2 linked regions of the Homo sapiens genome follow. The protein of the gene in region 1 interacts with the protein of each later gene in a biochemical or structural test. Each region holds a gene or a part of one and is shown in the gene's direction. Other genes may lie near its edges.

What was found.
Region 2: the proteins of NAP1L4 (region 1) and UBE2O are reported together in a solved structure, tested with the Homo sapiens proteins (one study listed by BioGRID).

Annotation. Positions count from the first base shown.
Region 1 is NC_000011.10:2,981,251-2,986,630, reverse strand, and holds part of NAP1L4 (nucleosome assembly protein 1-like 4), read left to right. Parts: intron 1-5,380. UniProt on the Homo sapiens protein: Acts as a histone chaperone in nucleosome assembly.
Region 2 is NC_000017.11:76,388,956-76,391,554, reverse strand, and holds the end of UBE2O ((E3-independent) E2 ubiquitin-conjugating enzyme), read left to right. Parts: coding exon 1-612; 3' UTR 613-2,099; downstream 2,100-2,599. UniProt on the Homo sapiens protein: E2/E3 hybrid ubiquitin-protein ligase that displays both E2 and E3 ligase activities and mediates monoubiquitination of target proteins. Negatively regulates TRAF6-mediated NF-kappa-B activation independently of its E2 activity.

The DNA of each region.
Region 1 (5,380 bases):
AAAATTTACTACCATCCCTAATTTTGTAGGATATATAGGATTTGTAAGGAAATTATAAGGAGTCTTGTGAAAACATTAATTACATTTGAATTAATTTTAATCCTTCAGTTATCTCCCATAAAGACATTGAGGACCTTTGAGTTTATTAAGACAGAGTAAATATATAAAAGTTTTGGGGAGTACGACTACACTCTCTAGCTTTGTCTCTCAAACGTGGCCCAATTTTTTTTTCCTTTCTTTTTCTTTTTTTTTTTTTTGAGACAGGGTCTGGCTCTGTCGCCCAGACTGGAGTCTAGTGGGGCAATCTTGGCTCACTACAACCTCCGCCCCCCAGGTTCAAGCAGTTCTCCTGCCTCAGCCTCCTGAGTAGCTGGGACCTCAGGCGTGTGCCACCATGCCCAGCTGATTTTTGTATTTTTAATGGAGATGGAATTTCACCACGTTGGCCAGGCTGACCTCGAACTCCCGACCTCATGTGATCCGCCCGCCTTGGTCTCCCAAAGTGCTGGGATTACAGGCGTGAGCCACCGTGCCTGGCCATGGCCCAATTTTATAGTTACTCTAGCTATGGAGTAGATGTTTTCAGTTCAAAATTAGGAATTTAAGGTTATATTTTGTTACAAAAATCTTTAAAAATTTCATAAGAAAACAGTTGTTTGGGGTACAAAGAAATTAATCCATAAATAGGATTGTTACAGTGACTAATATAAATAAAAGAACATTTGTGTAATCATGGGAATTATTTTATTTTATTTTTCCTCGACCCAATTAACTGGGTGAAAATTTGCTTGCCAGTTCAGATTTAGAATTGTAGACACAGTTAAAGTTTTTGACCTTGGGAGGGAACCTGAACTTTAGAAAACTTACAACATTCTTTTGCCTGGTATCCCTTTCATAATTTAACTTGATTGTCTTTTATTTATTTTTAGTTATTATTTATTAACACAAAATTATATTTATGATGTATAATGCGATGTTTTGAAGTACTATACATTGTGGAATGGCTAAGTCAAGTTAATTCACATTAGGTGGTATACTGATTCTGACAAGAACACTTAACATCTACTCTCAGCAATTTTTCAATTATGTGATACATTGTTGTTAACTATAGTCACCAGGTTGTATAGATCCCTTGATTGCCTTTTAAAAGTGAGAGAACCTTCTGGATGAGTCTTCGGGCTGTGGTTTTATAAGACTAGTATTAAACTGAACATAACATTTAAAACAAACAGATATTTATTTTCCTCAAACCTGTATATTTGATAGTTCCTTATAACTTTCTGTTTTAAGGGTGATAGGGATTGATAAACAAAAATAATTTGTGGTGCTGAAACTTGACTGAACTCTAGCTTGTTTATAATACCACCTCTCTACATTGTCTTTCCTTATTCAGGTTGAGCACTCCTGATCCCAAAATCAAAAATCCAAATGCTCCAAATTCTGAAACTCCGTTAGTGTTGACATTAATGTTACAAGTGGAAAATTTCACACCTGACTTCACGTGATGGATCACAGTTAAAACTTTGTTTCATGCACAAAATTATTTAAAATATTGTATAAAATTACCTTCAGTCTATGTGAATAAGATGTGTGGGAAACGTGAATGAATTTCATGTTTAGATTTGGGTCCCATCCCCAAGATACCTGATCATGTTTATACAAATATTCTAAAATCTGAAACACTTCTGGTCCCAAGCATTTCAGATAAGAGATACTCAACCTGTATAAAGGGTGCAGTGTTTAAAGTAACTTGATTTGTTGGTTTCATATCAAGGAATAGATGTAGTCTATATGCATGGCAGTTACAAAAGTGAAAAGAGACCTGGCCTGCTGTTATGTACTAGGAAATTTGTCTCCATTAACAGTTTCTCAGGTAGCCACTGTCTTCTAGTTTGTGGATGATGAAACTGAGGTCCAGAGGAAGGTTATGCAGAAGAGCATGAGTGGGAATGAGTATGGGGAAGTAGACAGGGCCTGAATTGGTAGGAATGTGTATTCTGCAGAAGGTGACGGGGGACCATTGAAGTGTGTTTGTTAGTTTTTTGTTTGTTTGTTTTTTGAGACAGAGTTTCGCTCTTGTTGCCCAGGCTGGAGTGCAATGGCGAGATCTCGGCTCACTGCAACTTCCGCCTCCTGGGTTCAAGAGATTCTCCTGCCTCAGCCTCCTGAGTAGCTGAGATTACAGGCATGCGCCACCATGCCCGGCTAATTTTGTATTCTTAGTAGAGACGGGTTTCTCCGTGTTGGTCAGGCTGGTCTCGAACTCCTGACCTCAGATGATCCGCTCGCCTCGGCCTCCCAAAGTACTGGGATTACAGGTGGGAGCCACCACACCTGGCCTTTGTTAAAGGGTTTTTAAATCTTCACTGACTAGGGCTGGGTTTGGGTTGCTGCTGTGGTCGTGGTGGTGAGCATAGCCAGCCATTGTAGGGTTTGTTGCCTTTTTTTTTTTTTTTTTTTTTTTGAGGCAGGGTCTTGCTCTGTTGTCCAGGCTGGAGTTCAGTGGCGCAGTGATAGCTCACTGCAGCCGCCAGGCCTCCAACTCCTGGGCTTGAGTGTTGCTTCTGTCTCAGCCACTCAAGTAGCTGGGACCAGAGGCATCAACCACTGTGTCCAGCCTCATTTTTTTTTTTTTTCTTTTTGTTTTGAGACAGTCTCACTCTGTCTCCCAGGCGGGAGTGCAGTGGTGTTATTTCAGCTTACTGCAACCTCTGCCTCCTGTGCTCAAGCGATTCTCCTGCCTCAGCCTCCTGAATTGGGACTACAGGTTCACACCACCATGCCTGGCTAATTTTGTTTTTTTTGTTGTTTTTGTAGAGACGAGGTTTCCCCATGTTGCCCAGGCTGGTCTGAAACTCCTGAGCTTCAGGTGATCTGTGATAGGGGTAGGATTTGAAACCAGGCTGTTCAGTGTGTGTCTGTCTTGTTCTAGGCATTGAGTTCTGGGTTGGTTGGTTCTTTAGTCAAAATTATTTTCTTTTTTATTGTGTAAATTCATTATTTTTTTTCTATCCTTGATTTAGCACTTTTTTTTTTTTCCAGAATACCGTGTTGGGTTTAACTTAACTGCCTTGTCATCTTGTTAACAAAAATTGTATTAAACAGCACATGCCGGGCTGGGCATGGTGCCTCTGTCCTATAATCCCAGCACTTTGAGAGGCTAAGGTGGGAGGATCACTTGAGGCTAGGAGTTTGAGACTGCAGTGAGCTATGATCCTGCCACTGCACTCTAGCCTGGGTAACAGAGTGAGACTGTGTGTCTCTTTAAAAAAGCACAGCCTTCACTTAAATGAAAATTGAGTGAATCATTTTATCAATGGACTCTGTTAAGTTGGAACAGGTACCATTCCATGGGAAGGTGAACCTCTTTGGCTCATGTCCTAACACAGGTGGTTTATGCTTTCAACAGATATTTATTATGCCAGGAACTGTTAGGGGCTCTGGGGCTGCATAGTGAACAGCATCAAAAGGGAGTATTGTCACACTCCATTTGTAGACAAAATGGATTTCTTGGAGATGCTGCTGAACAGTAGGATTTCAACCCTGACTAAGCTGTTGCTTGTCACTTGTTCCAATAGCAGCAACAGGTTTTTTGTTTTTTGTTTTTTTTTGAGATGGAGTCTTGCTGTGTTGCCCAGGCTGGAGTGCAGTGGTGCAATCTTTGCTCACTGCAAACTCCGCCTCCTGGGTTCAAGCAGTTCTCCTGCTTCAGCCTCCCAGTTGCTGGGATTACAGGCGAGTGCCACCATGCCCAGCTAATTTTTGTATTTTTAGTAGAGACGGGGTTTTACCATGTTGGCCAGGCTGGTCTTGAACTCCTCACGTCGTGATCTGCCCGCCTTGGCCTCCCAAAGTGCTGGGATTACAGGTGTTAGCCCCCAGGCCCAGCCTAGCAGCAACAGAATCTTTAATGAGCAAGTAGAAACAGCCAGAAGTGAAGTGGTGTTGGTACTAGGGAAAGGTTAGAAGGAGTCAGATTTGAAACACGAATGCATGTTTTACTAGCCGTGTGACTTTCAATTTGGCACCTCACCTTTCCAAGCCTCAGCTTCTTTTCGTGTAAACTGAGGATAGTCCCTCCCTAGTGGAGTTTCTCTTGGTATTAAATGTATGAAGTGCCTGACATGTAGGTCCCTTGCTAGTATAGGAGGTGCTGGAAATGAAGTATGTGTCTTTACGAGGTGTTACTGATAGGGTGATGACAACAAGAATCTGTCCATTAAACTGACAGTGTTAGATGTTTCCAGGTTAGTAGGCTTCTTTCAGCAATTAGTGTGTATGTGTGGGGTAAGGAAGGTGCTATGAGATACATTTCTTAGGCAATAGAGAGCTTCAATTAAGTAGCCAAATTACAGTTGATGTTATTGTGTAACTGTTTTGGCAGTATGTATCAGAATCCATTCATGCTCTTTGACCCAGAAATGCTACTGTAGCGGTCCTGCTATTGCCATATCAATTAAGGATAACTGGGAGTGGGAAGCCATATAAGCCAAGATGTTCATAGAGACATTATCAAAGGTATATAACAGAAAAAAACACCTCATTCTTTAACAGCTGGTAAGTGGTGTTTTAGCTCTTAGAATGTTGTCCTTAAACAATTGTTATGAAGTCTGACTGTCTCACACCTTGCATTTAGAATATGTGAGAAGGGAACTAACCTCAGGAATACTGTGATTGCAGCAAACATGGTGGAGGAGCGTGAGTGGGAATGAGTGTGGGGAGGTAGACAGGGCCTGAATCAGTAGGAATGTGTATTCTGCAGAAGGTGACGGGGGACCATTGAAGGGTGTTTTGTTTGTTTTTGAGACGGAGTTTTGCTCTTGTTGCCCAGGCTGGAGTGCAGTGGCTTGATCTTGGCTCACGGCAACCTCTGCCTCCTGTATTCAAGCGATTCTCCTGCCTCAGCCTCCCGAGTAGCTGGGATTACAGGCGTGTGCCACCATGCCCGGCTAATTTTGTATTTTTAGTAGAGACGGGTTTCTCCATGTTGGTCAGGCTGGTCTCGAACTCCCCACTTCAGGTGATCCGCCCACCTCAGCCTCCGAAAGTGCTGGGATTACAGGTGTGAGCTACCACACCTGGCCTCCGTTAAAGGGTTTTTAAATCTTCACTGACTAGGGCTGGGTTTGGGTTGCTGCTGTGGTCATGGTGGTGAGCATAGCCAGCCATTGTAGGGTTTATTGCCTTTTTTTTTTTTTTTTTTTTTTTTTTTGAGACAGGGTACTTGCTCTGTTGTCCAGGCTGGAGTTCAGTGGCGCAGTCATAGGTCACTGCAGCCGCCAGGCCTCCAACTCCTGGGCTCGAGTGTTGCTTCTGTCTCAGCCTCTCAAGTAGCTGCGACCAGAGGTATCAGCCGCTGTGTCCAGCCTCATTTTTTTTT
Region 2 (2,599 bases), on another chromosome or scaffold:
CTGCAGGAAGGCTATGAAAACAGTCGCTGTTACAATGAGATGGCGCTGATCCGCGTGGTGCAGTCCATGACCCAGCTGGTGCGGCGGCCCCCCGAGGTCTTTGAGCAGGAGATCAGGCAACACTTTAGCACTGGTGGCTGGCGGCTGGTGAACCGTATCGAGTCCTGGCTGGAAACCCATGCCCTGCTGGAGAAGGCCCAGGCACTGCCCAACGGGGTGCCCAAGGCCAGCAGCTCGCCAGAGCCCCCAGCTGTAGCCGAGCTGTCAGACTCCGGCCAACAAGAACCTGAGGATGGAGGGCCAGCCCCAGGAGAGGCCTCCCAGGGCTCAGACTCAGAGGGCGGTGCCCAGGGCCTGGCCTCAGCTAGCAGGGACCACACAGACCAGACTTCGGAGACCGCACCAGACGCATCGGTGCCACCCAGTGTGAAACCAAAGAAGCGGAGAAAGAGCTACCGGAGCTTCTTACCTGAGAAGAGTGGCTACCCTGACATCGGCTTCCCCCTCTTCCCACTTTCCAAGGGTTTCATCAAGAGCATCCGGGGTGTCCTGACGCAGTTCCGGGCTGCCCTGCTAGAGGCAGGCATGCCGGAGTGCACAGAGGACAAGTAGCTGCCAGGCACAGAGGAAAGAGCATCACCGTGGGAGAGGCCAGCCGCCGCCTGCTCACTCCCCCCCGGAATCACCCCTCTTCCCATGCCCCTCTGTCCCCACTGCAAACCCACTGCCCTCTTCTCCCCAAGGTGAGTTTGATGCTGAAGTGCAAGAAGTGTGTTGAGATGCTGCCGTTTCTATTTTGAAGCGAGCTTTCAACAGGCGGGTCCCCTGTGGCAAAGAAAATCGGAACCCTGTTGCCGATTTTCCATTTGTCACCCCAGCAGAATGTCCGGCACTTGCTCCCTTGCTGCCCCTTCTCAGGTCAGAGGCGGGTGTTCCAGGGCCTGCCGCGGGGCTCTCTGGGCCGGTTCCCTGCAGACCCGCAGGAGAGCACATGTGCCTTGCATGAAGTGTGGGTTGCGCCAACAATTCCCCTGGTCCCTTTCAACCTGTTTAGTTCAACTCAAGCCTCCCTGTGTCCCAGACCCTCCTGCTGCCACCACCACCCAGGTCCTCCCTAGTCCTCCAGCGTCAACACTATCCCTTGGGAGTTGTAGCTGCTGTCACTGACTCCCGGCTATACATGGCCTGTCGACCACGTTATAGCCCTCAGGCCTGTTGAACTTGCTCTCTAAGAGAGGTTGGGACCAGGCTAGGTTCCGGGTGACGCCCAGGAGAGGTGGTGGCCTTCACACATGCACATGGAGTTGAGGACCAGGGAGCTGCAGGGAAAGCAACAGCTATAGGTGCCTTGCTCTTCTGTCGGAGGCTGCTGGGGGCAAGAGCAGCTGCACAAGGCCAGGGCAAGTGCTAGGGCCCCTCCCCCATCACATGGTCACACTGGGACAGGCGTGCAGCTCACTGAACTCCAAGCGAGCCAGCCCTCTCTTGGACTAGAAGGCCTACTGTCAGCCCTTCGCTTACAAACTGCAGGCTCAATCCGAAGGGGACGGCCGGCGGGGGCTCTCCTAGTGCCCAGAGACAGGCCCAGAGGTTTACAAGTTTTCTAAGCTTTTGATAATGTGAAGCTCCAGGCCGAGAGGATGCTGTTGAGCACATTGCAGCTATGTAATTTTTGGTGTATGTATGTAATATTTAAGGTTGGAAAAAAAACTCAAAAGCAAAGATATTAACTCTTATTAGAAAAAAAGACAAAAAAAAAGCCAAAGCATGATGCGTCTTGTCAGCCTTAAGTGGGCTCCACACCTGTGCTGTGCTGTGACCGCCCAGCCAGCAGAGCTGCGGGAGGATGGAGCCGGACCACACACCGTGGCATTTGGAACCGAGTCGGTATCTTGTTTGAGAAACACCCGGAGTGACTGGTGGGGCTGTGCTTCCCAGTGCATTGTACATGTGGAGATGTGAATGCCTACTGCTTACGATATCTGTATAAAGTGCTGTGTGATTAAACTTTTTTTTACTTGCATTTTTTTTTTTTTTTTTTTTTGTGTTGGCTCATTAGCAAGACAAGGTGACACCATTAAACCTCCCTCTGCCATTCATCTGGGCTCCGTTGCCTTTGTGTCCCTCACACACACCCTTCCTGGGGAAGGAAAGACCTTGTTTGTTGCCAGGGAAGGCATGTGGCAGTGGGTCCTGGCTTTCCTGGCCAGGTGGGGGCCACTGTGAACAGCACCCCCACCCGCCCACACTGCCCTCTGCCTGCCAGACCTGCTTGCATGCCTTTTGTACTTCTTGTCCTGGAGCAGTCCTCTGGCCTCCTCCTGGCCGGTGGTGTGCCCCTCAGGAGCCAGCTTAGAGCAGCCTCCCAGCAGCTGTAGTCTCCAGAGACCTACAACTGACCAGTTCAGCTCCTTCCAGGTTCTGGGAGAGCCGACGTCATAGCACCTGGCGGTGGACAGGTGCCACAACTCCTGGACGCTAAGCCAAAATGGTTGCCCAGTTTAGACTTGGATGGATCCTTCCCTGCCACATTCTTTCCACTCCTGCCTGGCACTCCTCCACAGGGACAGGTAGGGAAAGGAGACAGCTGAGGGAGGCT